4 linked regions of the Homo sapiens genome follow. The protein of the gene in region 2 interacts with the protein of the main gene of each other region in a biochemical or structural test. Each region holds a gene or a part of one and is shown on either strand. Other genes may lie near its edges. The genes, in order: STAT6, IRF4, SPI1 and YTHDC2.

The links.
Region 1: the proteins of IRF4 (region 2) and STAT6 form a complex in vitro, tested with the Homo sapiens proteins (2 studies listed by BioGRID).
Region 3: the proteins of IRF4 (region 2) and SPI1 are reported together in a solved structure, tested with the Homo sapiens proteins (2 studies listed by BioGRID, with this or other methods).
Region 4: the proteins of IRF4 (region 2) and YTHDC2 form a complex in vitro, tested with the Homo sapiens proteins (one study listed by BioGRID).

Annotation. Positions count from the first base shown.
Region 1 is NC_000012.12:57,108,352-57,115,458, reverse strand, and holds the start of STAT6 (signal transducer and activator of transcription 6), read left to right. Parts: upstream 1-4,096; 5' UTR 4,097-4,330; exon of another isoform or gene 4,331-4,737; intron 4,738-5,169; exon of another isoform or gene 5,170-5,518; intron 5,519-7,107. UniProt on the Homo sapiens protein: Carries out a dual function: signal transduction and activation of transcription. Involved in IL4/interleukin-4- and IL3/interleukin-3-mediated signaling.
Region 2 is NC_000006.12:401,740-408,762, forward strand, and holds part of IRF4 (interferon regulatory factor 4), read left to right. Parts: coding exon 1-38; intron 39-3,278; coding exon 3,279-3,391; intron 3,392-5,026; exon of another isoform or gene 5,027-5,160; intron 5,161-5,715; coding exon 5,716-5,859; 3' UTR 5,860-7,023. UniProt on the Homo sapiens protein: Transcriptional activator. Binds to the interferon-stimulated response element (ISRE) of the MHC class I promoter. Binds the immunoglobulin lambda light chain enhancer, together with PU.1.
Region 3 is NC_000011.10:47,375,538-47,382,847, reverse strand, and holds the start of SPI1 (transcription factor PU.1), read left to right. Parts: upstream 1-4,300; 5' UTR 4,301-4,494; coding exon 4,495-4,539; intron 4,540-7,115; coding exon of another isoform or gene 7,116-7,118; coding exon 7,119-7,215; intron 7,216-7,310. UniProt on the Homo sapiens protein: Pioneer transcription factor, which controls hematopoietic cell fate by decompacting stem cell heterochromatin and allowing other transcription factors to enter otherwise inaccessible genomic sites.
Region 4 is NC_000005.10:113,509,092-113,516,703, reverse strand, and holds the start of YTHDC2 (3'-5' RNA helicase YTHDC2), read right to left. Parts: upstream 3,011-7,612; 5' UTR 2,809-3,010; coding exon 2,622-2,808; intron 1,434-2,621; exon of another isoform or gene 1,433-1,433; coding exon 1,342-1,432; intron 1-1,341. UniProt on the Homo sapiens protein: 3'-5' RNA helicase that plays a key role in the male and female germline by promoting transition from mitotic to meiotic divisions in stem cells.

The sequences.
Region 1 (7,107 bases), on a different chromosome or scaffold from region 2:
GCACTAAAAAGTATGTTTTATCATGACTTAGAATTCAGATACATATAGGGCCGGGAGTGGTGGCTCATGGCTGTAATCCCAGCACTTTGGGAGGCTGAGGTGGGTGGATCACCTGAGGCCAAGAGTTTGAGAGCAGCCTGACCAATATGGTGTCTCTACTAAAAATACAAAAATTAGCTGGGTGTCATGGCATGTGCCTGTAGTCCCAGCTACTGGGGAAGCTGAGACAGGAGAATTGCTTGAACCCAGGAGGCAGAAGTTGCAGTGAGCCGAGATCCCGCCACTGTACTCCAGCCTGGGCGACAGAGGGAGACTCCATCTCAAATAAAAAAAAAAAAAAAAGAATTCAGATACATATATAAAGCTGAAACAAAAGTTTAATTAAACAATACTTATCCTTACTTCGCTTGATGCCTTCTGATATTTTCTGTACTGTTCTATTCTACTTCAGTTTTATTTTTTAATTTTATTCACTTTATTTTTTATTTTTTGAGATGGAGTCTCACTCTGTTGCCCAGGCTGGAGTGCAGGGGTGTAATCTCAGCTCACTGCAGCCTCTGCCTCCCGGATTCCAGTGATTTTCCTGCTTCAGCTTCCCAGGTAGCTGGGATTGCAGGCACATGCCACTGTGCCCAGATAATTTTTTGTATTTTTTAGTAGAGACGGGGCTTCACCATGTTGGCCAGGCTGGTCTTGAACTCCTAACCTCAGATGATCCGCACACCTCGGCCTCCCAAAGTGCTAGGATTACAGGCATGAGCCTCTGCGCCTGGCCTTTACTTCAGTTTCAAAGAGTGAAGGTCAAGACACTGTTTTTTTTTATGTTTTGTTTTTAATTTTGTTTTAAATTTTTTTTGTAGAGATGGGATCTTGCTATGTTGCCCAGGCTGGTCTCGAACTCCTGGCCTCCAGCAATCCTCCTGCCTCAGCCTCCCAGAGTATTGGGATTACAGGTGTGAGCCATTGTGCTTGATCAAGATGCTGTTATGGGCTGAGTTGTGTTCCTCAAAAATTCTCTTGAAGTCCTAATCTCAAGTACTTCAGGACGTGACCTTATTTTGAAGGACCCCCTTATAGGGTCTTTACAGAGGTAATTAAGTTAAAATGAGGCCATTAGGATGGGGCCTAATGCAATATGACTGGTATCCTTGAAAAAAGGGGAAACTTGGAGACTGACTTGCATACAAAGAGAACAGTGTGTGAACGTGAAAATGGCCAAGGAGGGAGGCCTGGAATAGAGCCTTCCTTCACATCCCTGAGAAGGAATCAATCAATCCTGCTCAGGTTAACCTTGATCTTGGACTTCTAGCCTCCAGCATCTTGAGAGATTTCTGTTGTTTAAGTCATGCAATATGTAGTACTTTGTTACAGCAGCCCTAGCAAACTGATACACTCACCAAATCGATTTTGTGACTCACTATTGGGTTGTAACCAGCAGTACATAGACATAAAGTTATTTTTTCCTTACGCTTTATCTTGTGCAATCGTGTGTGTGTGTGTGTGTGTGTGTGTGTGTGTGTGTGTGTGTGTGACGGAGTCTTGTTCTGTCACCAGGCTGGAGTGCAGTGGCTTGATCTCGGCTCACTATAATCTCTGCCTTCCAGATTCAAGTGATTTCCCTGCCTCAGCCTCCTGAGTAGCTGGGACTACAGGCGCGCACCACCACGCCCGACTAATTTTTTGTATTTTTAGTAGAGACGGGGTTTCACCATGTTGGCCAGGATGGTCTCAATCTCCTGACCTTGTGATCTGCCTGCCTCAGCCTCCCAAAGTGCTGGGATTACAGGCGTGAGCCTCTCTTGTGCAATCTTTACCACCACTCAATGGGATGTCAAGGTCCAGGGGAGGGTGATACAGTCACCCTCACAGTCATGCAGGTGCAGATGTCATTAATGAAGGTCTGACAGACCCTGCAATTGTACAATCTGAAGATGAGTATCTCCTTAAATTTCATACTCTAGGCACTTTACCCTAGCCTAGACTCTGTTGAAGTAGGTATAACTATTATTCTCATTTGAGGGATTGACACCTGATTGTGAACCTCCTAAATGGAGTCATACCCAAGCCAGATTTGCCTCTAAATTCTGTTTTTTCCCCTTACATCACAGTGTTCCCATTGGTATAGTCAGTTACAGAGGGAGTAATATATACTATTTTTCTACCAGTACTTGCTCCTCGCCTTCCTACCCCCTAAAAGGAGCCAAAGTCAGAGATCACATTTACTCTTTTCCCTCCTCCTCTCCAAGTCTTTGGGGACTTGTAGCTCTGACACCCTTAGATGGTGAAACCTGGCTTCACCTACTGTCTGTGGATGTCTGCAGGCAGAGTGGGCACTCGGGAGCACATACAAAGCACGTGTGCCGTGAACACGTATGTGCACACACCTTGATCCTAGCATGGCTTGTTGGACAAGCCAATGGACAGAGTCCCTGCCTGCCACCTCCACCCCTGCTCTCCCTTCTCTTCCATTCACTGTCCTGCAGACACAGCAAACACATACGCACATACACCCTCAATATCCTTTTGGCAGTAACATGACCCCCAAATCTGGGGACTTCTATGTAGGATGGAGACCCTTCTCCTTTCCTCATACCTGGTTTATTATGAACCATAAAAATAGTGCCTGACAGTTACTGTGTGTCAGGCATTGTTCTAAGCCTTCAGATGTTTTACTGCATTTTATTCTCACATTATGGGTTAAGACTTATTTGCTCCATTTTACAGATGACGAGAATGAATCACAGAGTAAATTGCTCAGGGTTGTGTGGTTAGCAGCATTAGCAGGATTTGAACCCAAGCAGCCTGTATCCACAGTCCAGTCTTTTAACTGCTATATTTTGCTGTGTTCAAACCCTCTGCTGCCTGGCTGGGTCCACACACGTGCACTCATGTACAGACCTGCGGGGTAGCAAGGGATGGAGGAGGAGGAGCTGGTTCTGGAAATCAATTCAGGCACCAGGGGGCAGCATAGGCCTAGCTTTGGCCCCTCAGCCCAGCCCCTGCTATGGGAGGGAGGAGGGGAGTAGAAACTTCCTCCCACCGCCCCTCAGACACCACCTCTTCCACACACCGGGGCTCTCAGGTGTCCGGGAGTAAAGGCCTCTCTGGATCCCTTGGTCTCCTCCAGCTCCTCCCCCAGCAAAAACTGCAGAACCCTCCACTAGTTATGTTGATGACTCAGAAGTTGAGCAAGACTGTGTGTGTGTGTGTGTGTGTGTGTGTGTGTGTGTGTGTGTGGTGTTGTGATTGCAATGGGCTCTGTTTGTGAGCCTGCCTGCACGTGTGTGTGTGTGTGTGTGTGTGTGTGTGTGTAGTCTTGTGGTCAGGGAAGTTGTGCATGTGTGTGTTTGTTTCTTGGCGTGTCTCAGTGTTTACCCCAGAAACATATAGGAACTTGGCAGATAGGAACACAGCAGATTCGTATTCAAACTTGCCCCTTGTGAATCTGCAGGCAGCAGCTCCGGCTTGTGCTGGTTCCCACCACAGTCTCAGGAGGGGTGCCCTGTGAGGAGAGAGCAAAGACCAGCTTCAGTCCAAGGGACTCCTAGAGTCTTCCAGAATTCTGAGCTGAGGGTTCCCCTCCCCCACTCCCTCCCGTCAGTGGTCACGAGACCGACCTCTAAGGCGTTCCCTGCCGGAAGGGAGGGGGACCTAGGAGTTGGCTGGCATCGAGCTCCCTGGCGGCTTTTTAGGGTCCTCCACTGGAGGGAGCGCAGAGTCCAGAGGGATTTACTTTTCCTGAGGCCCTGGGGAGCCCAGTCCCTTGTGGGTCCAAACCCCAGCCCTTGGCAGAGTTTGAGTTTGGGAGCCAGGCAGTTAGGGGTGGCAAATCTCTGTTTGATATTGGGTGACTTTCTGGAGAAAAGCTGATGCTTTTGAGGGGGACAGAGTAAGTGGGGGTCAGCCTCCCCCCAAGCCTGGCTCCAAGGCCTGGACCCCAGTCCTGATCCCCCACGTGTTCCCCCACTCGGCACAGGAGGCACACATATTCACCCCACTTTCTTCCTCTTCCTCCTCCAGCCCACTTTCTCTTCTCTGTGTCGTCAGAGCTCCAGGGAGGGACCTGGGTAGAAGGAGAAGCCGGAAACAGCGGGCTGGGGCAGCCACTGCTTACACTGAAGAGGGAGGACGGGAGAGGAGTGTGTGTGTGTGTGTGTGTGTGTGTGTGTATGTATGTGTGTGCTTTATCTTATTTTTCTTTTTGGTGGTGGTGGTGGAAGGGGGGAGGTGCTAGCAGGGCCAGCCTTGAACTCGCTGGACAGAGCTACAGACCTATGGGGCCTGGAAGTGCCCGCTGAGAAAGGGAGAAGACAGCAGAGGGGTTGCCGAGGTGAGGGGTTGCCTCCGAGGTGGGTGCGGGGGCCTCTATGAGTGCATGGGGGTGGATTCGTGGGGGGAGCTCTCGGGATCCTCCCCTGGCTGGGTGGATGGTCCCCAAGAGATGGTTTCAGCTAGTGTTGGTGGCTGGTGGCACTGGGTTTTAGCAGTTTCGAACTCCTGGAGGAATCTGGGAGGGTCCAGGCCTCAGTACTCCCCTCCCCCATGGGTCACGTTTTCACAGCCTCACCCCTGCACCCCCAGGGCCATGGAAAGTCAGGGAAAGGAGGTGAAGGAGTGCCCCTCTGCCCTGAGTCGGGGGAAGTGGCCGCCCCTCCCTGGAAGGTTGATGCCAGAGGGCAGTGGATCCTTGTTAAACCCCTATCCTGCCCTCCACTAAAGGTTCCTGTTCAAGGGTGTGGCTGGGGCGTGAGCAAGCCCCAGATGTAGACCTCATGGTGGCCCAGACGAGGGGGAATTTCCCCCTCAAAACTGCTCCACGCTTGGCTGCTGTAGACGCTGAGATTTCCCAGCGGCGGCGCCGAGTTAACCCTCCTCGTGCTGAACTGGCTCCACCTCCCCGCCTGCCCCCACCGCCACATTCACGCATTGGGCAACTCAGAGAAGCTGTTTTAACTTTCGATCCTGTGGTCCCACAATCAGAGGACTCGGGCAGATAGGGGTTGAGATAAGCGAGTTTAGGCCACCAAGCGGGCGGACGAGGATCCCAGACCTTGCGCTTCCCTTCTGAGTTTGGGAGGTAACACTGGCCCCGCCCCTCACGCCGTGGCTCCTCCCTCCCTTCCCCTTCAAGGGGCTGAAGACAAAAGGTGCCCCTGTCCTGGTCAAGCCAATCGACCCAGCCTTGTTATGGGTTGGGGTGGGGAGAAATGTGTCCTCCTGATGGCTGGGGAAGAAGAGGGGTTGGATATTTCTAGCCAGGGCCATGCCAGGAGGCTGGTCACTCTGCAAGGGGATGCAGAGGAAAGCGGTGCCCACTCACTCCAGAGGACCTTTCTCTCTTGGGCTAGAGAAAGGCCTATTGGAGGAACCTGAGCAGGAGGGGTAAGGATTCTGCCTTGAGGAGAAAAGAGCTGGGGTAAGTGGGCACTGGAGGAAAGAGGGGCATGAAGGTCTTGGAGCAGAAACGTCCAGAGAAGGGACCTCTCCATTTTCCATCCCTCTGAGAGGCCTGGGAGAGGTGAGAGGCTGAACGTGCAACAGGAGGACTTGGGGTTACTGGGTTTGGGGAGACCTGGGGAGTTGTCATCCCATCCTCTCCCTCATCTCTGGGAGAGGGATATTATGAGAAACGTGAACTGAGAGGCCCCTGGGAAACCACTGGTTACCCAGTCCTCCCTGAACCTGGAAATGGGGATGCAACCCCCTCTTCTACTTCCCTGTCCCCTCCTCTCCTTTCTACCTGTTTTCGTCTCTCATCTTTGCCTTCTAGCCCTCCAGCTTCCTCTCTCTTCTAGGCTCTTTCCTCCTAGCTTACTAAACCCGCCTTTTTTCCAGTCTCTTCCATCCTCTTCCTTAGTTCTCTCTACTTTCCTTTTCCACCTCTCCTCCTTCAAGTCTCCTCCCACCTTCCCCCACTTCTTAGGATGATCAGATTTGCCCCTGGAAGGGATCCTAACAACACAGTGCGATGGTTAATCCCCACTCAGATTCAAAGCCTGCTTTCCAAACTCACTTACTGAGTGGCCTTGGGCAGAGTAGAGAAACTCCTTAAGCCTCAGTTTCTTCATCTATAAAATGGGATATTATATATTTTAAAAAGTGTCGTGAGGCCTGAAGGAGATAATACACTGAGTGTAATGCCTCATACACAGTAAGTGCTTAACAAATAGTAGCTGTTATTACTCTCCCATCCTCTTCATCATCTAGCCTTGTGGTTTTCATTTTTATTTTATTTCATTTATTTATTTATTTATTTTGAGGCAGAGTCTCTCTCTGTCGCCCAGGCTGGAGTGCAGTGGCTCGATCTCTGCTCACTGCAAGCTCCGCCCCCCAGGTTCACGCCATTCTGTCACCTCAGCCTCCCCAGTAGCTGGGACTACAGGCGCTCGCCACCACGCCCTGCTAATTTTGTTTTTGTATTTTTAGTAGAGATGGGGTTTCACTGTGTTAGCCAGGATGGTCTTGATCTCCTGACCTCGTGATCTGCCCGCCTCGGCCTCCCAAAGCGCTGGGATTACAGGCATGAGCCACTGCGCCTGGCCGAGCCTTGTGGTTTTCAAATTATCTCATGGAGTCCTAGAATTTTGAGAGGTTTGTCTAGGGATGCCTTTGGCGTCAGGAGGTGGGGAGAGGGAAGTAGAAGCAGTCGAGTTTCAGGCTTTCCATGCTTGCTTTCAACAGGGCATCTTCGGTTTCGTACCTTTTATGTAATTGAGATTCCACAGATTAAAAGCTGACATTGCCTACCGCTTTAAAAAGTTTGGAAAGTTTTCCACTCATCTAACACTCATATTTTATAGATGAGAAGATCGAAGCCCACAAAGGGAAGGCTCTTTGCCCACAGAACCAGAGCCAGGTCTAGAGCTGCAACTAAATCCTCTGCCACTCTAAGAGAGCTCTCGCTCTACTGCCCTGTCTCCCTTTGCCTCCCCATCCCTCTGGCTACAGCTCAGCTCTTCCCACCCCTGTGTCTATCACTGAAGGAGTTACCCCCATCTCAGGCATTGACTCAGGATGCCCCTGGTTTAAGGTGGTCTGGCCATGAGTGGTGGTGGGGACGGTCCCTAGGAGGGCTATCTATGGGAGGTCCCTGGCTGCCCCAGGAGA
Region 2 (7,023 bases):
GACCTGCAAGCTCTTTGACACACAGCAGTTCTTGTCAGGTAAGGCACCTCGTTATCTGTTAGAATGGAGGTGGTGATGGCCTGCCTGCCACAGGGGTCAGAAACCACAGGGTCCCTCCCACCCCAGGCTGAGGTCTTCCTCCTGTTGACTTCGGCGCCCACTGGGCTTGGGGCTTGACTCCAGTAGAGATCTTCTGTCTGGCTCTGTTGTGGGCAGAGAGTCCGGATCAGATGGTCCAGGTGGACCATGGCTCAGGCTGTTCTCTTGCAATTCTGGTTTTCAGCAGTCGCCTCTTAAAACAGTTCCATTTCATTGCACTATGATCTCGACAAATACGTCTGCTGATGTGGCGGCTCTTTTCAGGTTCCCAGAAAAATCATAAAGGTTGGAAGCATATTGTTAACATTCTTGGTTGTCAGGTGTGTCACCCTCATGCAGATGCTGGCCCACGAGTGAGACGGAGGGTGGAGTGGACTGTACTGGTTTTGCACAGGAGAAGTTATAGGAGAGTGCTATAAGTTGGCTCTGTGATATGAACATTTCTAAGCATATTTTTCAGAACCAGTGAGTTTTGTTTTTCTACCTTGGATTTCATGACAATTCAGCGAACCTCTGGCTGGCTTCTGTGAAGCCCCTCGCCCTGTCATGCTGGGCTTCCTCACTGGCTTTGTGGGGCTGTCCAGGTGGAGGGAGCCTCCCGCGTGGGAGGGAGCTGCTCTACCCGCCACTCGCCACCCCACCGCCAACTCTTCCTCTGCCTTTTCCCAGTCCTGTCCCTTCCTGAGCCCCTTCAGAAACTCCTGTGTCTTTGATTTCTCATGTGCCTCCCCTTTTCTTGAATGTGCTTCTTCATTCAACTTATTTAAAATAAAAATATGACACGTCTGTGTGCTCTGGCACTGTTGACATGTGCTCGTACTTCTGGGTGTAAGTGACCCAAGTTTTTGTAAGCTCATCCAGATTTTCTTTTGGTGCCCAAAGCAAATATGTCCCCAGATAACTAAGCTTCAGGCCAGGTGTGGTGGCCCATGCCTGTAATCCCAGCACTTTAGGAGGCTGAGGTGGGCAGATCACTTGAGGCCAGGAGTTCAAGACCAGCCTGGCCAACATGGCAAAACCCCGTCTCTACTAAAGATACAAAAATTAGCTGGGCGTGATGGTGGGCGCCTGTAATCCCAGCTACTCAGGAGGATGAGGCACAAGAATCGCTTGAACCTGTGGGAGGCGGAGGTTGCAGTGAGCTGAGATCGCACCACGGTGCTGCAGTTTGCAGGACAGAGCGAGACTCCATTGCCCCCCGCACCACAAAAAAATAACTAAGCTCACACAGAGGCTGACCATAGGAAGAGGGAGAACTGTGCTGGTTCCCCGAGGCGGCGGCAAGTGAGGAAGTCACCTGGGGCTGGACACCTCTCATTCTAAGGGCAGAACCATCCCCAAGCCCTGGCCAGGGCGGTCCCATCCTTCTTGGGGTTGGGCATGGTGTTCATGGGGGACCAAGGAAATTGAAGGGCAACTGGGGGGACCCCCCCTCCCCTGTCAGCATCTCCTGTGTCTGCCTTGGGATCTGGAAGAGCTCACATGGGCCAGGAAGGCTAAGGCCCACTGGGCCTGGATTTCTGAAGACTCTGGACCTTGGTGCCAGTGGATTCAGAAGATACCACAAGGTGAGGGCTTTCTAATGAAAGTGTCACAAGGAACTGGCACTGGCTTTTCTGAGTGCCTCTTGCTGGGCGTTTTTAGGGAGGTAGAGCCCCCGTGGTGACTAAGCTGGAAGGTGCACATTGAGTCACAGGTGCACTGCGTGAGAGACAGCACAGGCAGGGGGTGGACGCCTGTGAGTGTCCTGGGGCTGTAGACTTGCGCGACTAGAACTTACTATTAATCTGTGAGCAAGAGCTGGTCTTGGCTTTCATTCCTTCCTCTGTAACCAAGGGCTGTGCTCTTTGCCCACTGCAGCCTCTCACCTCAAAGTGTTCACTGAGGTTCAAGGAGGATGCTGTGAACGTAAAAACTGCAGCTGTGCCAACCAGCTTCTGCATAATTAAGGATTCCCACCAAACACTCTCATGTTATCTAGGGTTGGAGCCATGCTTTCTCAGAGAATTGTGCCAACTCGCCATTCTGATTAGCCTGTGTAGGTGTAGTCTCAGATCACGGCAGTGTGAATGTATTTTACAGATTCTGACTAAGTCATTTGGGTTTGATTTGAATTCTGGAAAAAAAAAAAAGCAGGAAGTCAAATAGTCCTGTAAGTTAGCTAGAAACTTCTGTTCAGTTGAAGAGAACAGTGGAGATCTTTGATATCTTCCTATTCAGGTCTGCACAGCACTAGGGACAGCCCCCAGGGCCCGGCCCGAGGGTGTGTATCTGATAAGGACGCGTCTGTTCTGCAGAAGCTGTAGCGGCTCCTGTGTCAACTCGTTTCTTTTGCGGGCGTGACATTTTATTGTAGCTACAGGCAGAAGATTTGTCTTGTGTACAGGGGAGGGAGCATGGGCTAAAGTCAGGGGATGGGCACTTGTCTTTCCAACAATGTTCCAGTCCGTTTTGTATCTTTTGGGTAGGTGTGGTGGCTTCAGGATGTACATGTGTATATCCACAAGCGGGAGGCCAGGGGGGCTGCCCCACTCCTGTTCTCAAGTCAAGTTACTGTTCCATCCCTGGAGACAGGCAAGAAGTCTACTCAGAGTTACACAGTTCAGGCATAGTGACAGTGGGACTCAGCTGCCGATGGCTGGTGCTCAGTCACCACGTTGACGTTACATATTTTCTGTGGTGCCTGAGTTACGTGGATGTCCGCAGTAGCACAGATACTGGATTATGTGGGCTCTGTAGTGAGGGGATGAGGTTTTAAAATGATCCTGGGATGTCGAAACATTCTGATTTTTTAAATGAAAACTTGTCCATGGCATAAATTGGTCTTTTGCCATTGCGTGACTACGTTTCTTGTTCTTTATCTCCCGACTTCACTGTGGTCTACTACCTTTTGAATCTTCGTGGGTCCAATGCTGCAAAGCAGTGTTCTTTAGCTGTCGACTAGTTCCTCTTGAAGAATCGAGGGAGACCGAGGGCCCTGGGGGGAAAGCACCCAAAGGAATGCATACATGCTATTTTGTATCTGAGATGTTCACATCAAGAGCCCCACTCAGCGGAGTAAGAGTGCTCATTCCTCTTGCAGTGTTCAGAATCACAGTAAGCTCTTGCTTCCTGTTTAACCTGGTGTGTTCGGTGATGAGGGTTTCTGAACATGGTCTCTTTCTTGTGGGCTTCTACAGAGCTGCAAGCGTTTGCTCACCACGGCCGCTCCCTGCCAAGATTCCAGGTGACTCTATGCTTTGGAGAGGAGTTTCCAGACCCTCAGAGGCAAAGAAAGCTCATCACAGCTCACGTGAGTCCTCAGTTACACTCCTACCATAGTGGCTTCCTGTTCTTTGTAAAGGCCAGAGTTTCATTTAGAAAAGTCCCAAATGAAAAGTAAATGTCAAATGACCTGGAAAAATAAGCGTAACCCTTAAACTAGTGAGGGAGGAAGCATGGTCCAACGAGCAGCACAGTCTGAGGACTCACGTGCTCCTCCCAGACTTGAGATCTGCTCATCAAAGAACCAGGGAGGACAGCCTCAAAGGAGGGTGCCTCTTTCCCCATCTTTTTTATTTTTCAGGAAAGTTGTCGTATTTCCATTTTATAGGGATTGAAAAAGATTGATGGTTAAAGTTGCCCTTTAAAATTCTCCAGGTTAAGATTGCTGTAAGAATGCTATCTAGCTAGTGGATCTTCATTCAATGGAAAAGCTTTTCCCAAATGAGAAACTATCCATTCCCTGGAGGCATTTTGTAGGTCTCTGCAGCTGTGTCCTAGCACCTCTTTTATTTCTGGAATTTTAGAAATTATTTAATTATTGGGCATATGATATTTGAAAGAGGCTGAATCTTTCAAGGAATTCAAGCAAATCAGACCCTCTCGTAATGTTCTCTAGCATAGCTCAAGATGGGTTCAACTGTGGCAAGTAACACTAAAAGGGTAGGGTTAGGATTAGGGTTAGAGTTTTCTTTTTTATGAGAAAAGGTTTCCATAGATAACATGAAGCATTAATTTGCCATGGGAAACAGAATCTTGAACCCTTAAGACTTTTGAATTTGAAAACTTCACATTGCTACATACTTGCAAGCATTATTAACGGGCTTGCATGCTGAGCAATACCAGGTAAAAGTTACACCCCCTAACATCAAAGTTCTCATCATGTTCTAGCTCTGATGCTATTTCTCATTGAGAACTGAAATGAAACATGGTTTAATCTTGAACATACAACCCCCCTTCTTGATTTTAAAAACAAAGACCAGCCAACCAACCAGTATATAATCCCATAGACTCAGGAGTTTTCTCATGAGTTCTCTCCAGTGATTGACTTAATAATTGATATGATTGTTGAAATAATAACTGATACATTGTTAACAACAGGAATTGCTAAATGACTAAATAAACTTGGCATTGATAAGCAGCATTTAAGAAGTTGATGATCGGCCGGGCACAGTGGCTCACGCCTGTAATCCCGGCACTTTGGGAGGCTGAGGCGGGCAGATCATGTGGTCAGGAGTTCGAGACCAGCCTGACCAACATGGTGAAACCCCCTCTCTACTAAAAATACAAAAATTAGCCGGGCGTGGTGGTGCGCACCTGTAATCCCAGCTACTCGGGAGGCTGAAGCAAGGGAGTCACTTGAACCCAGGAGTCAGAGCTTGCAGTGAGCCGAGATTGCACCACTGCACTCCAGCCTGGGTGACAGAGTGAGACTCTGTCTCAAAAAAAAAACAAAAAAAGAAGTTGATGATCAGCTCAGCTATCACATCAATCCAGTTTTAAAGTTGACATGGATGCAAGTCACTGTCCTCTAAGTCAGGGAAAGATGGATCCCCAGATGACCCCCTCATGCTGAAGACGAGGCTGCGTGGTCCATAAAATGAATAAACACACGTGTACACCTATGAGTTCCACTTTTAAAAATTATTAATTTAATTCATTTCAGGTACTTAGGAGTTTAGCTTAAGTCGTCATATATAAAATACAGTCTCTAATATCATGATTGATGGAGAGCATTCAGCTTGCCTTAGATGCTGTAAATTCAGGAAAAGCTGAACATTAAGGCGTTTTTGTTTTTTGGTGAGTGTGATCCACGCTAATAACCAGACAGTATAAATTTGAGGCCAGTTAGCTTCTCTTTTTCCACAATAGTAGTTTTGTTGTTGTTTAACTTTACTTTTTATTTCTTTTACCTCTGGTTGAGAACTATACAGATTACCTAGAAATCAAATCATTCAGGATGAGCTCCTTGTTTCTTTCAAACTGCAGTTGTGGAAAAACAAAATCATTGGCCTAAATTACCCTGCAGATTCCCTCAGACTTCCTTTTAATTTGATCACTTTACTTGATTTGATGCAGTTTTAGTTAAATGTACATTTTAAGTGGCAGTCGATTTGAAAGTAACATCTTTAACCCAGAATTAAGTCACTTTGGCTGTTTTTTTACATGTTGATCTATGGAAGGACTAACCAAAAAATTGCTTCTTTAGATGGCTCCAAATATGAAATGTTTTGATGTGTTCTAGGATGTAACTTTGGGCTTTACGTTACTGTCTCCTTAGAATCTGAGTGCTGTTTAATAGTGAGCCAGTTGCAGGATATCTCAGTAATGTCTTTTTAAAATCTCTTATTAAAGGTAGAACCTCTGCTAGCCAGACAACTATATTATTTTGCTCAACAAAACAGTGGACATTTCCTGAGGGGCTACGATTTACCAGAACACATCAGCAATCCAGAAGATTACCACAGATCTATCCGCCATTCCTCTATTCAAGAATGAAAAATGTCAAGATGAGTGGTTTTCTTTTTCCTTTTTTTTTTTTTTTTTTTGATACGGGGATACGGGGTCTTGCTCTGTCTCCCAGGCTGGAGTGCAGTGACACAATCTCAGCTCACTGTGACCTCCGCCTCCTGGGTTCAAGAGACTCTCCTGCCTCAGCCTCCCTGGTAGCTGGGATTACAGGTGTGAGCCACTGCACCCACCCAAGACAAGTGATTTTCATTGTAAATATTTGACTTTAGTGAAAGCGTCCAATTGACTGCCCTCTTACTGTTTTGAGGAATTCAGAAGTGGAGATTTCAGTTCAGCGGTTGAGGAGAATTGCGGCGAGACAAGCATGGAAAATCAGTGACATCTGATTGGCAGATGAGCTTATTTCAAAAGGAAGGGTGGCTTTGCATTTCTTGTGTTCTGTAGACTGCCATCATTGATGATCACTGTGAAAATTGACCAAGTGATGTGTTTACATTTACTGAAATGCGCTCTTTAATTTGTTGTAGATTAGGTCTTGCTGGAAGACAGAGAAAACTTGCCTTTCAGTATTGACACTGACTAGAGTGATGACTGCTTGTAGGTATGTCTGTGCCATTTCTCAGGGAAGTAAGATGTAAATTGAAGAAGCCTCACACGTAAAAGAAATGTATTAATGTATGTAGGAGCTGCAGTTCTTGTGGAAGACACTTGCTGAGTGAAGGAAATGAATCTTTGACTGAAGCCGTGCCTGTAGCCTTGGGGAGGCCCATCCCCCACCTGCCAGCGGTTTCCTGGTGTGGGTCCCTCTGCCCCGCCCTCCTTCCCATTGGCTTTCTCTCCTTGGCCTTTCCTGGAAGCCAGTTAGTAAACTTCCTATTTTCTTGAGTCAAAAAACATGAGCGCTACTCTTGGATGGGACATTTTTGTCTGTCCTACAATCTAGTAATGTCTAAGTAATGGTTAAGTTTTCTTGTTTCTGCATCTTTTTGACCCTCATTCTTTAGAGATGCTAAAATTCTTCGCATAAAGAAGAAGAAATTAAGGAACATAAATCTTAATACTTGAACTGTTGCCCTTCTGTCCAAGTACTTAACTATCTGTTCCCTTCCTCTGTGCCACGCTCCTCTGTTTGTTTGGCTGTCCAGCGATCAGCCATGGCGACACTAAAGGAGGAGGAGCCGGGGACTCCCA
Region 3 (7,310 bases), on a different chromosome or scaffold from region 2:
AATCTTAGGCCTCGGGAACACACAGTCTACTGTGTTTCTTGGCTGCACCCACGGAGGACAGCCCCCATACTCCTTGCTTACAACCAGCAAAGACTCCACAGCCATCCCTGCACACGACTCAGGCTCCTTGGCTTGGCACTCAAGGCTCTTTGCTTTCCTGTCCTGCTTTGCTTCCAGCTGCAAAGATGGTGGCTTCCTGTTTTCCTCTTCGTTTCCTTTGCTTAAGTTGATTCTCAGCCAGACATGCTTTCCCCCTGCACGCTTCCCTAAGCCATCCTATCTGGGACCCTGACCCAATCAATGGTTCCCTAATGCACCTTTGAGACCAAGTGTACCTGGCACCTCCTCTCTTGCCCCACTATCTGCTCACATGACCCTCTGCAGGCCTGTAAGCTGCTGGAGGCTCCGAGTATGCCTCATTCATGTCTATCCCCCTTACTAGGCCCAGACCATGGAAGACACTCAATAAAAAGTAAGTGATTAAATGACAACCTCTACGGAAAAGAGTATGGAGATTTCTCAAAGAACTAAAAACAGAACTACCTTTTGGCCAGATGCAGTGGCTCACACCTATAATCCCAACATTTGGGAAGGCTGAGGCAGGTGGATTGCTTGAGCCCAGGAGTTCAAGATCAGCCTGGGCAACATGGTGAAACCCTATCTCTACAAAAAATACAGAAAATTAGATGAGACTACAGGTGGCACACATCCATAGTACCAGCTACTCCAGAGGCTGAGGCGGGAGGATCGCTTGAGCCCAGGAGGTCCAGGCTACAGTGGGCCAAGATCACGCCATTGCACTCCAGCCTCAGTGATAAAGTGGCATTCTGTCTCAAAAGAAAAAGAACTGGCCAAGCATGGTGGCTCACGTCTGTAATCCCAGCACTTTGGGAGGCCGAGGCAGGTGGATCACATGAGATCAGGAGTTTGAGACTAGCCTGGCCAACAATGATGAAACCCCATCTCTACTAAAAATACAATAATTAGCTGGGCGTGGTGGCGGGCGCCTGTAATCCCAGCTACTCAGGAGGCTGAGGCAGGAGAATCATTTGAACCCGGGAGGCAAAGTGAGCCAAGATTGTGCCACTGCACTCCAGCCTGGGCAACAAGAGCGAAACTCAGTCTCAAAAGAAAAAGAAAAAGAGAGAAAAGAAGAAAGGAAAAGAAATATCATTTGATCCAGCAATCTCACTGAGTATCTAACCAAAGGAAAATAAATCACTATACCAAAAAGATACTGCATTTTTATGTTTATCACAGCACTATTCATAATAGCAAAGACACAGAATCAACCTAAGTGTCCATCAACGGATGAGTGAATAAATAAAATGTTATATTTTTATATATATATATATATATAATGAAATACTATTCAGCCATAAAAAAGAATGAAATTATGTCTTTGCAGCAACATGGATGGAATTGGAGGCCATTATCATAAGCGAAACAATGCAGAAACAGAAAGTCAAATACTGCCTGTTCTCATGTATAAGTAGGAGCTAAATAATGTGTACACATGGACATAGAATGTGGAATGACAGACACTGGAGACTTGCAAGGGTGGGAGAGTGGGGAGGCATGGTGAGGGATGAGAAATTACTTAAAGGGCACAATGTACACTATTCTGGTGATGGATAAACTGAAAGCCTAGACTTCTCCATTATGCAATATATCCATGGAACAAAACTGCATTTGTACCCCTTACATTTATACAAAAAAGTGATTAAATGAATGAATGAATAAATAAGCATATAAACAAACCAAAGCAAGACAATAACACACACGAGTGAATGAATGAACACATCAAGCAGGGCCTAGATCTTGTGGAGTGGATAACCTTACACCCCACTGCACCCAGTCAGCTGGGGCTTGGCCTTCTTGATGGGGAAGTGGGAACAAGGATGGAACTGATGCCAAGCCAACCTGTCCCTCCCCTCCTTTTTGGGAGAGGCCTTGGTCAGGTTCCTAGGGAGCCCTGAGGACCTGTGGCCTGGAGCCTTTGGAGAGTCCCAAGTGCAGATACAAAGTCAGTGAAGGTGGAAGTCAAGTAGATCTAATGGTGAGCCCAGAGCTGTGAAATTCTGGTGTTTGCTGCTAATGAAAAAACACTTGTGGCCTAGGAATCCACTGGCAAGAAGGCAGGCCTGTCTTAGTGGAGTGGGAATTTAAAGCAAGGGGTTAGATTATACAGGGGAGGACACTGAATGTTCAAAATTCCTTCCCAGCAGAGGGGACTCACCAGAGATCACTGGGCCAGAAAAACAACAACAACAACAACAACAACAAAACAAAAATGCCTCTACTCATCCCTCCACCCCCCAGAAAAGATCAGGAACTCTCTGAAGGCAGGGGTCTTGTATAATACTTTTTTGTTTTCCCAGCGCTCAGCTTAGAGCCTGGAACTCAACATTGGGAAGATGCATGGATGGACAGATAAGTGGATAGACAGATAGATGAATGAGTGGATGGATGGATAGATGGATGGGTAGATGAGTGGATTGGTGGATGGGTGGATTAGTGAATCGGTAGATGTGTGGATGAGTGGATGGATGGATGGATGAATGGATGGATGGATAGATAAGTGGATGAGTGGATTGGTGGATGGATGAATGGATGGATGGATAGATAAGTGGATGGGTGGATTTGTGGATGGCTGGATGAATGAGTGGATGGATGGATAGGTGGATGAGTGGATGGATGAATGGGTAGATAGCTGGATTGGTGGACAGGTGGATGAGTAAATGGGTAGATGGGTAGATGGGTGGATAGGTGGATGAATGGATGGATGGATGAATGGATGGCTGGATGGATGAGTGATACCAAAAAGATACTGCATTTGTATGTTTATCACAGCACTATTCATAATAGCAAAGATACAGAATCAACATAAGTGTCCATCAACGGGTGAGTGAATAAATAACATGTTATATTGTATTTATATATATATATAATGAAATACTATTCAGCCATAAAAAAGAATGAAATTATGTCTTTGCAGCAACATGGATGGAATTGGAGGACATTATCATATGCGAAACAACGCAGAAACAGAAAGTCAAATACTGCCTGTTCTCATGGGGCTCCTGGAAACCGAAGCTGATAGGTGAATGGATGGATAGGTGGATGAATAGATGGGTGGAATGGTAGGTGGGTGGATTGGTAGATGGGTGGATGAGTGGACTGGTGGATGGATGGATGAATGAATGAAGGGGTAGGTGGATGATGGATGGGTTGATGGACAGATGAGTGGATGGGTAGATGGGTGGATGAGTGGATGGGTGGATGGATGGACAGGTGGATGAATGGATGAGCAGATTCATAGATGGATAAACAGATGGAATTGTGGACTGATGGACTGATAGCAGGTGGACGGGCTGATTAATGGACATATAGATGGTTAGATAGACAAGTAGATAAACAGATGGGTGGGTGGATGAATTGACTGACAGATGAATGAACAAACAAACGGACAGTTGGATAAATGGACACATAAGTGAATGCATGGTGGGCTTGATGAATGGATAGCTGGATGGACAAATAGACAGACAAATAGATGCATGGGAAAACAGATGAATGGTGGATAGGCAAGAAAGGTTTGTAAACCAGGAGGGTTAGATTGATATTCAGGCATTGCCAAGGGATGGGGAAACTGAGAAACCTGGGCTGGAAACAGAGCCCTAGGGATTTGAATGTGGTAATCAAGAAGCTGGGAGGGGAGGGTATAAGAACCCAGGACCCTCTTCTGGTGGTAGGGAAGCCCATGTGAACAGATTCAGAGGGAAGGAAGAAAGCAGCACTATGCTGAAGACCCTACACCTGAGCCCAGCCTCAGCCTAGGGATAGCCTAGGCAGTGGGGGTGCAGGGCCACAGGAAGAGCCAGGCCTGATAGCCTGCTAGATCAGAGCCCTCACCCAGGAAGGCTGACTCCAGAAAGTGGAGGCCCCAAGAGGCCACCCCTTCCAGCTCTGACCCCAATGAGGTGACTGTTGGCTACATAGGGATCTCAAAAGAAGCAGGCATTTGTTGGGTTAGAGCAAAAGCCTCCCAGTGGTGTGGCAGAGCTACACGTTCTCCCTCCCATCCTCCCTCCCCAGCTTAGCCCCCAAAGTCATCCCTCTCAGTCCCAGCTTCCTCTGGGCAGGGGGCCTGGACCCCATGGCTTCCCAGGCCAGCCCTTTGAGCACCACCTGCCCCAGCCGGCCAGAGACTTCCTGTATGTAGCGCAAGAGATTTATGCAAACGGGTTGGGGCGGTGATGTCACCCCAAGGGGACTATCTCCCAGCGGCAGGCCCTTCGATAAAATCAGGAACTTGTGCTGGCCCTGCAATGTCAAGGGAGGGGGCTCACCCAGGGCTCCTGTAGCTCAGGGGGCAGGCCTGAGCCCTGCACCCGCCCCACGACCGTCCAGCCCCTGACGGGGCACCCCATCCTGAGGGGCTCTGCATTGGCCCCCACCGAGGCAGGGGATCTGACCGACTCGGAGCCCGGCTGGATGTTACAGGCGTGCAAAATGGAAGGGTTTCCCCTCGTCCCCCCTGTGAGTACCGGGACTCCTCCACCAGCCCAACCCGTGGCCCTCGGACGCCTGCCTGCCTGCCCACGAACCCGCCAGCCCACCCACTGCCCTCCTGGCTTGCTATCAGTGGGAAGTCAGGGTTTCCTCCCTGGAACTCCTGGCCTGAGACCCAGCGAGGGGGCCATTGGCTTCCTCGGAGCATGCCCTGGCGGGCTGAGGCCAGGCCCACGGTGGGGCTGTGATCGGTGGGGCCTGAACAGTTATTTATAGACAGGGCTCGGGTGGCAGGCGGAGGCCGGGGCTCCTGGGGAGGGTGCTGGGCTGAGGATGGTGAAGGCGGTGGTAGAGAGGTAGAGGAGGGAGATGGGGGGACTGGCTTGGGGGAGGCCGGTCCCCTGGATGGGAAGGGGTTGAAGGCAGGAGGCAATGGGCAGAAGTCTTGGCCCATGGCCTTGGGGCTCCTGGAAACCAAAGCTGATGGAACTCTGGGTCCCCAACGCCCAGTCTGGGGCCTGGCACAGAGGACATGATTGTTGACCAAAGGGTCAGGGCCATGGGCCCACAGGGGTACCCACAGGAGACAGGGACTGGTGCTGGAAAGGAGCCAGGAGTGGAGCTGAGACAGTGCAGTTAGGGCTGGCCCCAGGGCTGGAGTTCAGGGAGAGGCGCGGCAGGGGACAGGGCTGGGACAAGGCCAGGACTGAGATTGGGGCTGGGTGGGACCTGGGGTGAGCATGTGATAAGTGAGAATGGGGGCTGAGGCTGGGACAAGGACAGGGACTGGGTCTTGGGGGTGAAGAAGTGGGAGCCCCAGGGGACCCCGAGAAGAGAAGGGCAGATCGCCACTGCTCCTCACTCTCAGTGACAGTTGCAGCCTTAGGCAGGTGTCAGACCAGGGTCCCTCGGAAAGGACCCTTCTCCCTTTTCCCACCCCATGACCTCTCAGGAGTGAGGAGGCTTGAGGGGAGCCGGGAAGGGCTTGGCAGGCTGCCCACCTGAATCCACTTTCCTGGTCTAGAGGCAGCTCCCTTCCCCCACTATGCCCTGGCTCAGAGCCACCCCAGGAGGCTGGGAGGCACCCCAGGCCTGACATCACACCAACCCGACCAGAGCCGGGCTGACATCCTGCAGCGAGGCTGTACTACCTGGAAACCCAGAGGGGCAGGCTCAGTGCTGGGCTCCTGGCCTCCTCACTTGGCCAGCCACAGGCAGGACCAGGCAGGACCAGCCAGCCTGCTGTGGCATCCACACCGACACCCCTTCCCACCTGGGAACACGAAGTGGGCGGCCCAGGCAGAGGGTGACGGAGGTTGTCTCAGAAAGAGCCAATTCTGCCTCAAGAAAGCCACAGGCCCACTGTCTCTGATCCCTGACCTCTCAATTCTGAACTCCAGGTGGAGCTAGATGGGTGGCAGAGCTCCTTGGGCCATCCCTAGGCACCCCCAGCCCTCTCTGCAAGCTCCAGGGTCACTCTGAGTGTCTCCTGGTAGGGTGGGCTCCCAAGGCAGCCCCGGTCCCCCAAGCCCAGCCCTAAGGGCCACAGTGACTGTTATGCAATCCTGGGCCACACGCTGCGGGGGCGGGGAGGCCTGATGACTGTTGGGAAGGCTCCTGGGTGTGCACGGCCCTGTGTCTGTGCCAGTAGGGGGAGGAGGACAGGGAGGAGGGAGGAAGGTGGGAGGAAAGAAGGAGGACAGGGAAGAGGGGGAAGAAAAGGAGGACAGAGGGGAGTGAGGAGGGGGAGGAGGAAGCAAAGGAGACGGGGAGGGGGATGCAGTGAGGAGGGAAGGAGGAGGATAGGGAGGACTCAGGAGGGAGAGTGAGGGGATCAAGGCCCTCCATGCGCTCGGCCCCTAAGTCTGCCTGGGTGACCCCTGCACCAACCGTCAGTGTGGAGGGTCATTGTGGTGCCACTCTTGCCCAGGCTGTGTGAGAGGCATAGGCTGTGAGAGTGGGGCTGGGCAGGCAAGTGTGTGCTGTGCGGTTGAGTGTGCAGGTGGAATGTGAGTGGCTCTGGGGGTGTGAGTGTGTGTGTTGATGGCTGGAACGTGGTGTCATGTGAGTGTCAATCAAGGAGACTCTGCGTGTGTGCATGAGCTGAGTGTACAATGTCTCTGTGAGGTGGGTGACCTCTGAGTGGGTATGAAGATGTGTGTGTGAGGGATAGTGTGCAGGCGCCTGCATGGGGGTGGGTAGGGGCTGTGAGAGTGAGTCCTCGTGTGGGATTATGAGTGTGAGGGTGACACAGGGATCGTGTGGACATGTGCATCAGTGTGACCAGGAGAGGTGTGTGGGATGAGGATGGGGGCACACAGGCGTGAGTGTGAGTGTGAGCGTGAGGTGGCTATGGGGAGTAGCCCAGCAGAGGGGGACCCTGGTCCTCTTCTGACCTCTCACCCCCAAGGTCCCTGTCACCCCTTTTCAGGCCTTCTGGGTCCCCTGCCCCACTCTCTGTCCCAGTTCCAGGCAGAGGGAGGGCTGTAGGTCCAACGCAGCCACTGAGCCAGGGAAGGTGATGGGGACCCAGCGTGCGGGGGTGCTGCAGGCCTGGCTGGGGTCTCCCACCATGGTGCAGGCCCTGACACCTCCTCTCTCAGCAGCCATCAGAAGACCTGGTGCCCTATGACACGGATCTATACCAACGCCAAACGCACGAGTATTACCCCTATCTCAGCAGTGATGGGGAGAGCCATAGCGGTGAGTACGGGGCCTGCCACGCCCCCATCCCCCAGCCCAGCCTGGGCTCCTGGGGTCTGGAGAGAGAAAAAGAATAAATGATTCCCAGGACTTCT
Region 4 (7,612 bases), on a different chromosome or scaffold from region 2:
TTTTCTTCCCTCTATGTCAGTAGTTCTCAACCTGAGCAATTTTGCTCTCCAGAGGACATTTGGCAACCTCTAGAAGCATCTCTGGTTGTCACAACTGGGGTTAGGAGTGTTAGTGGCATGTAGTAGTAATGGCTATGGATGCTGTTAAACACCCTACAGTACACAAAACAGAATAAAGAATTATCCAGTCCAAAATGTCAATAGCACCAACAGTGAGAAAGCTTCCTTTACATTGATCCCACCATCCTTATTAACAAAATGAAATAGCGCCACAGAATTTTAGAGTTTTTCAATTTGGATGGCTCAAATGACTTTTCCCTCAATGTAACTCTGTGATCCTCCCAACAAAACAAAACAATTTCCTCCTGTACCACTTTTTAAAATCATTTCTAATCATCAGATCCTTGACTTGGTAGGAAAGAAAACAATGAACATATGCTCTAAAGCTTATTATTATATTGCAGTAACAGTAAAAGAAGTAAGTTCCATAAATAATTGCAACTATCTTTTGTACATCCATTTTTCAAATGAGATTTCTATCAAAAAATAAAAATATTTTTCTCAAGCAATCAACTTCAACTTTTAAACTATTTTTTTCTTACATCTTAAAATTTACCTTTGAAAGAGTTCACGGTATGCCACCCAAAAATATGTCACTCTGCCATAAGGATTATTTTGAGCTGAAGGCAATCGAGAAGAAGCAGACATAAGAAAAACTCCGCCTTCCCCTGCTTTACCAGAAAGGGAAGGACTATTCTTAACAAGAGAAACCACTCTAGACTCTTAATAGAGACAGCACCAGGGGAACCTACATAACCAACCTTGCTAAAAGAACACATATCTTCCATTAGTTTCCCCACATATACCTTCCCACAATTTACTGCACCTACAAGTTCAAAGTCCTTTTCCTTTGTCTTGTCATTTTTTAAATAAATTCATTGTTCTTTATTAAGATGCCACATAAGCCCCATGTTTGAGTTACTATCGAGTTCTCCCCTATGTATGCATGATGCATGTCTTAATAAGCTTATGTTTTTCTCTTGTTAATATGTCTTTTATCAGTCTAATTTGCAGGGTCCCAGCCAAGGAACCTAAGCTGGGTAGAAGAAAAAGCATTTTCCTAGGGAAAAACAAAACAAAACAAAAAAGGGGGGAAGAGGTAGACAGAGGGAAGAGGAAAGAGTTGAATTTGGTACAGACCTGAATCTTTTATCTACATATGATACAATTAAGAATGTGAAGTTAAAACAGTAATAAGTACTTAAATGTACTCAGAAACGTTTCTCCCTTTTTTGGGCAAATAATCTTTTTTAAAAAAAATAAGAAAAGCTACCAGCTTACCCTTTACTTTTAGAGACCAAACCAAGAGACTGACTGAGTCGATGAATAAAGGCTCTTTCAGTACTGGTCAAAGAAGAAGGAAATTCCATTTCTACACGGAAAAAAAACAAAGTAGTAAAATTTGTAGATAGGCAATTTTCTCTCAAGTAAAACACACAGATACAAAATATGAAAAACATACATAGACAATCAAATTTATTATACTTTATTTGAGGTTAACTTTATATTTCATATTCTATTTATGTAAATTAATAAAATTAAGATATTTTATTAATTCAATAACTACTGAATGTCTATCAGAATTCTGATATTAATAAAAAGACAGCTATGTATTAAACCTAAATGTGATAAAGGCCTCTGATATTCACCAAAAACGACTCCTCTTACTTGTTCTGGAATTTTGAGTTGGTATAATGACTGAACATATTTAACTTGGTCCCTACTTGTTTAGTTAACAAAATGTTTATTTTCTTCAATGATGAGATATGTTCAAATATTATGAATTCTCAACATGAAACTCCATTGTCTTTGCTTTCAAAACTGTACAGAATTCGTATTTCACTATTTCAGAGGGATTTGTTATATATTGCTGAGGCTTTCTCTTTTTTTAATGTGAATTTAGAATCTCTCTGTCTAGAACATTCCCCGTTTTGGACTATAAGATTCCAGAGTAAGAGGTCCCCTAACTAAGCCAGCAGGTCCGAATGAGCCCTCAACAGACTGCACAGGTCACCGCAGGTCAGTTGCTGGTTCTGCATTATATGACCCAAGACAAGTGGCTATCTAACCTCAAGAGGTGTGGAAGATGCTTCGTGTGCCAAACAAGTTTAATTTAAGTGGGTAGCGTGATGCTTCAGGGTCCAAACGTATTGCTGGTGCATTTATTTATATGTTTGATTTCTTTCTGCTCTTCTACATCTGTAGCTTAAACGTGCCACAATTAGGTGACACCCCCTTAAAAAGGGTTAGGGCTAACCAATATCTGAAACACGGTGGCTTAACCGCCCAAGGCTGCTGAAAGACGCGGGGGAAAAACACTTTCAGCTAGGGAGCAAAGTGCCCATAACCCCATTGATCCGCAGAGCACCTCGCATTCCACCGCAGGGCCAACAGCCGCGTTCCAGACCCGGGTGCCGCCGCTGAGGCCCGCCCCGGACGGTGGCCCGGGTCTTCCCTCCCTCTTCGGAGGCACCCCCATCACTCGGTGGGCCGCCGTTTGGGGGGCGCTGGGGTGAGGGGGGTATCCTGACTGCCAGCATGGTCCCTGTCCGGAACCTCACCTCTCTGGTCCCCGTATCGGAAGCGCTCCAGCGCGATATTGACTGCGATCTTCACCTCCTCATCAATGCGAATGTCCTTCAGCCCCTTGGCCCGGCCGCCGCCCCCAGGGCCACAAGGCGAGGGGCCGCCGCCTCCGCCACCGCCAGGAGCCGGCTGCCGCGGGGAGACGCTGCTCGGCCTGGACATTGCCCTGAAGAGATGGTCTCTCCGCACGGGAGCGGCCAGGCCTGCTAGCTGACAGCCAATGACAAAGACCGTGGGAATCCGGGGCCACTACCGGGAAGCTCCGGAGACGGCCTGTGTTGGGCTGAGGTCACCAGAAAGGCCTCAGTCACCGCCACAGCAGAAGTGAAGCCTGCGCCATTGATATCACGGCCAGGCGAGGAGCGCGGGCGTAATGACGTCACCAGGGCCGGCGCCCGTGACCTCAGCGCGGCCGCCGCTGCGCGCCTAAAGGAGGCTGTCTGCGGAGCTATGGTGCGGTTCTCTTCCCGCGCCGCCCACCAAGGGTCGCTCCTCATCTTCTTATTCACTCACTTGCTACTTCGTTTAGTCCTTCATTAATTCCTGCAGTAAGCATGTATGGGCTTCTACTGTGGACCTGGCATTATGCCACGCCTTCGATGTACATTGGAGAACCAGAGAGCCAAGGTTCCTACCTTCATGGAGTTTATATTTTAGTGGGAGGAGGGTTGCCAGATTTAGCAAATAAAAATACAGAATGCTTAATAATTTGCATTTCAGATAAACGAATAATTTTTAGTGTATATATTTCCCATGCAATATTTGGAAAAATATCATAAAAAATACATATACTAAAGAATGAGCCACTGTTGTGTGTCTTGCATTCTTCCCTTTTCTGAATGGGAGATTTTAATGCAAGTATGCCACCCTTGCTCTATCACGCTACACAGGGTAGCTGAGTGGGGGCAGGTATGTAGTACATATTTACATAGTTCATGAGTTACCTGGCAATGAGGATATACATCTGGATCTAATAAAGAGGACTGTGTATCAACAACAGATCCTGGATGCAGTGACTAGATAGAATTCCAGGTGTCTGGGGAGGGTATATGTGTATTCTGTGTGTGGTAAGAAGGGGGCGGAATATTTGGTGACAAGAAGTATCTTTTCTTCCTAGGCATTATATTTCCCAACTCTCCTGCAGTTAGCTGGGGGCCACATGGCTGAGTTCCGGCCATTGGAATGTTGCTGGAACTGATGTATACCACTTCCAGGATTGGTCTATAACACCTTCCTTGAATCTTCCCTTCTCTGTCTTTCCTGGTCTTCTGGAAGTTCTTAGACAACGGTGGAACCACTAGATAGATAACAGGTTCCCGATTCCCTGAACGAGTGTGATAGAGTGTCCTCACCAACCCACATTGGAATATGACATGGGTAAGAAATAATTCTTAGTTGTGGTAAACTGCTGAGATTTGGGAAGATTTTTTTTTGTAACATTATGGTAAATTGTTGAATTCATCAAAGGTATGGCCTTTGATGAATCACACATTCCTCTGTTCACACCCTTGTATTCTTCCTTCCCACATGGACTCTGTCTTTGGCTATGTAACTTGCTTTGGCCATTGGGACATCAGCAAATACGAGATAAGCAGGGGCTTGAAAGGTGTTTGTGCATTAAGGCTTAGCCTGTTTTGCTGCTGAGAATTCTTCTTCCACAAAGTAAAGAAGCTTAGGCTAGCCCACTGACAACTATGGCCCAATCATCCACCAGCACCAAGGGCAAGACGTGAAAAAGGCCATAATGGAAAGTCTAGTCTTAGAAAAGCTGCTGGATGACCACAACTCTGTAAGCAACCCAAAGCAAGATTAGCAAAACCACCTAGCTAAACATAGTCCAAACTGTTGACCCACAGAACACATAAACAAATAAAATGAATATTGCTGTAAGCCACTAAGTTTTAGGTTGGGTTTCTTACACAGCAGTAGATAACTGATACAAAGAGTTAGCTTATTCTGACTAATATATTTGTACAATGATAAGGCTGATCTTGGGCATAAGTGACTAGGCTGAAAGAACTAGCTTCACCCGTTCCAGTTTGTACCCAGTTGCCTAAGAACTGGGGTCATCAACATCTTGATATGCCTGTAAACAACTTGTGGCATACGAGCATGCCACAGCACAGTGGTCTGGAGACTGCTCTCTTCTCATCTATAAAATTGACCTGGTAGAGTAATAAAGTCTTAAAATATAACCAACATGATTTTATTATTGATGCTAGGGATATTTCCTCCCACCCTTTGCCCCCTCATCACCCCTACTTTGCCAGCCCTCCATCCCTTTCTCTCTTGTTCAGCCAGGTCATTTAGGGGTTATTATTTGGGGAAATATTGTCTTAAGTTGGTTTCGGTTCTCTGGAACTGGAAAAAGTCACATAGTAATACACCAGTAAGTTGCCAAAAAGGATCCTGAGCCCTGCTTCTCTTGGGGAGAACAAAACAAAAACCCTGAATGGTGTGGGAGATCCTGGAACAGAATGGCCTGTGCTACTTTCCCAAGGGAAGGCCAGAGAGGCAGCTCAGGAAAGAAGGTAGTGTGGTGTGCCTAGGCAGGTGAGGCGCAGTGTGGTATAGAGCAGCAAAGGGTTCCTGGTGCCCAAGAGGTGTCCAGAATTGGCAGAGATATGCCAGACCTGAAGGAATCGCACAGTTGAGAATAAGCAATGAATGACTTAACGGTGACTTATGTTGTTTGACCACCAAGGATCAGAAACTCTTTCCCACACTTACTGATGCCTTGATACTCCGTAAGTCCCCCAGAACTTAAAAGCAAGCCTAGGCAAGAGTGGCAGCCCCTGAATTAACTGAGGTTAATTACAGAGAAACTAAGTTCTTTCATATCTAAATCTATGGAATAAAATTTGTACTTAAGTAATTGTAAAACTACTTCCAGCGCTATCATTTTATATACATATCATAATATAGATGCCAAAAATTGGTATTTTTCTATACCCTGTATATGTGTCTACCTGTCTACACATTAATCAGCTTCAATGTATATTAATATGGTTAGCCACAAGGTGACACTAGAAAGCTATCTTTTGCTTATGGTTCTAGGTCTTGACCGTCATTGATTTTCATAAACGGCTTCTATGAAGTATTGTATTAACAGTAGTAATCCCTTCCAGGGACATTTTCATTTTAATAAGGGAGATGGCAGCAATGAGGTTAATAGGAGGCAATGTTCATATTTTAAAATAATAAAAATAAGACTCTCTGGAACAGGCTATCAACTAGTTTTTATTCTTGCTCTTCTTACCCACTCTCATGTGATAGGATATCCCAATCACTACAAAAAATATCAAACACTAATTTATTCAACATCCATAAATAAAAAATGTAAATAGAAATAGTCTGTTAGATCTTGGAGCTTAAAATTTAAATGACTGTTTTTACAGAATGTGCCTCAAAAACGTCTAGAACATCCTTAAACCATCTCCCAAACACTAAAAGCTCAGTCCAAAAATGTGAACACAGTAGGTCAGCAAATACATTGTGTAACTCACTGAGCAATTGCTATCTTATGTTGGGGATGACTGAGAAGAGGAGGAAAACCATCTCTTCCAGGACGTCTTGCTTATTTGATTTATAAAGGAGATGCAATTTAAAGGATTGCTTAGGAAAATAGGAAGAAAAGGTTTGGAAAAGCTCACAGGGAAGAACTTTTTTTTTTTTTTGAAACAGAGTCTTGCTCTGTTGCCCAGGCTGGAGTGCAGTGGTGCCATCACAGCTCACTGCAAGCTCCATCTCCTGGGTTCATGCCATTCTCCTGCCTCAGCCTCCCAAGCAACAAGGACTACAGGTGCCTGCCACCACATCCAGCTAATTTTTTTGTATTTTTAGTAAAGACAGGGTTTCACTGTGTTAGCCAGGATGGTCTCGATCTCCTGACCTTGTGATCCACCAGCCTCGGCCTCCCAAAGTGCTGGTATTACAGGCATGAACCACCACGCCCAGCCCACGGGAAAGAATTTTCTAAGCAAAGGAGTAGTATATAAGAGAAAGTAGCATGTCACAATCTCGAAAGCCCCTCATTGAGAACATGGAAAGGCAGGTTGAAGGGACCAAAGAAGAAAGCAGTGACACTAAATGATCAATGTGGATCTAGTCTATGGTCAGATAGCAGAGGAAATTTACCTACTGGGAAGTGGAACCATTGCATGGTTTTGAAGACAGGAGGGATATAAATTTGTCCGTTGGCATATGTCCTTATGGAATTTTAAGGAAACCATGCCCTTGGGATGCATCAAGAGTAGGATTTTAAAAATCAAGAGTAGAAATGATGACACTTTAAAGAATTTAACTGTAGTAGTAAAAAGAATCAGGTGAGAATTTATGAGAGGACGCTGCAGAACTGGGAGAATGAAGACCCCTAAGTTTCTCCTTCAGGAGACTTTTAAGAAGAACTCAGAGACGAAGAGGGAGAGTCTATTCATGGAGTTGTCTCCTGGGACCCTCTGAAGAGAACATCAAAAACCCACTGAAAACAAAAAGATTATTGCTAAATATTTAATGTTTCTGTTTTATGAAAGGATTCAGTTTTTAAACCATAGGCAAAATTTACCCATGCAGATAGCTAAAGAGGAATTGAATACATTTTTCCGTTGCTTGACAGTGTATTCATATCCCACAAAATAAGGATTTTATTTTCCCCAGGGCACACTTAGTATTTCGTAAATATAGTACTTTATTTCTTACTGATATTTTTCTTCAAAATATTCACAAGCAAAATTGTGGTAATCACTGAATTGTTGTGATGGTTATACTGGTCTTCTTTATACTATTCTTTTTACTTTGGGGTATGTTTGAAAATGTTGACAATTTTTTAAAAAAATCGTTAAGAGTCTTTCTAGCCCCAAACTGTATCAAGTTAGTAAACCTACTTACGCATTTGGGATAGGTTAAGAAAGAAGTGTTCTTTCAGGACATGCAACTACCTGGTTTGATTGGATCATCCAAAAGTAGT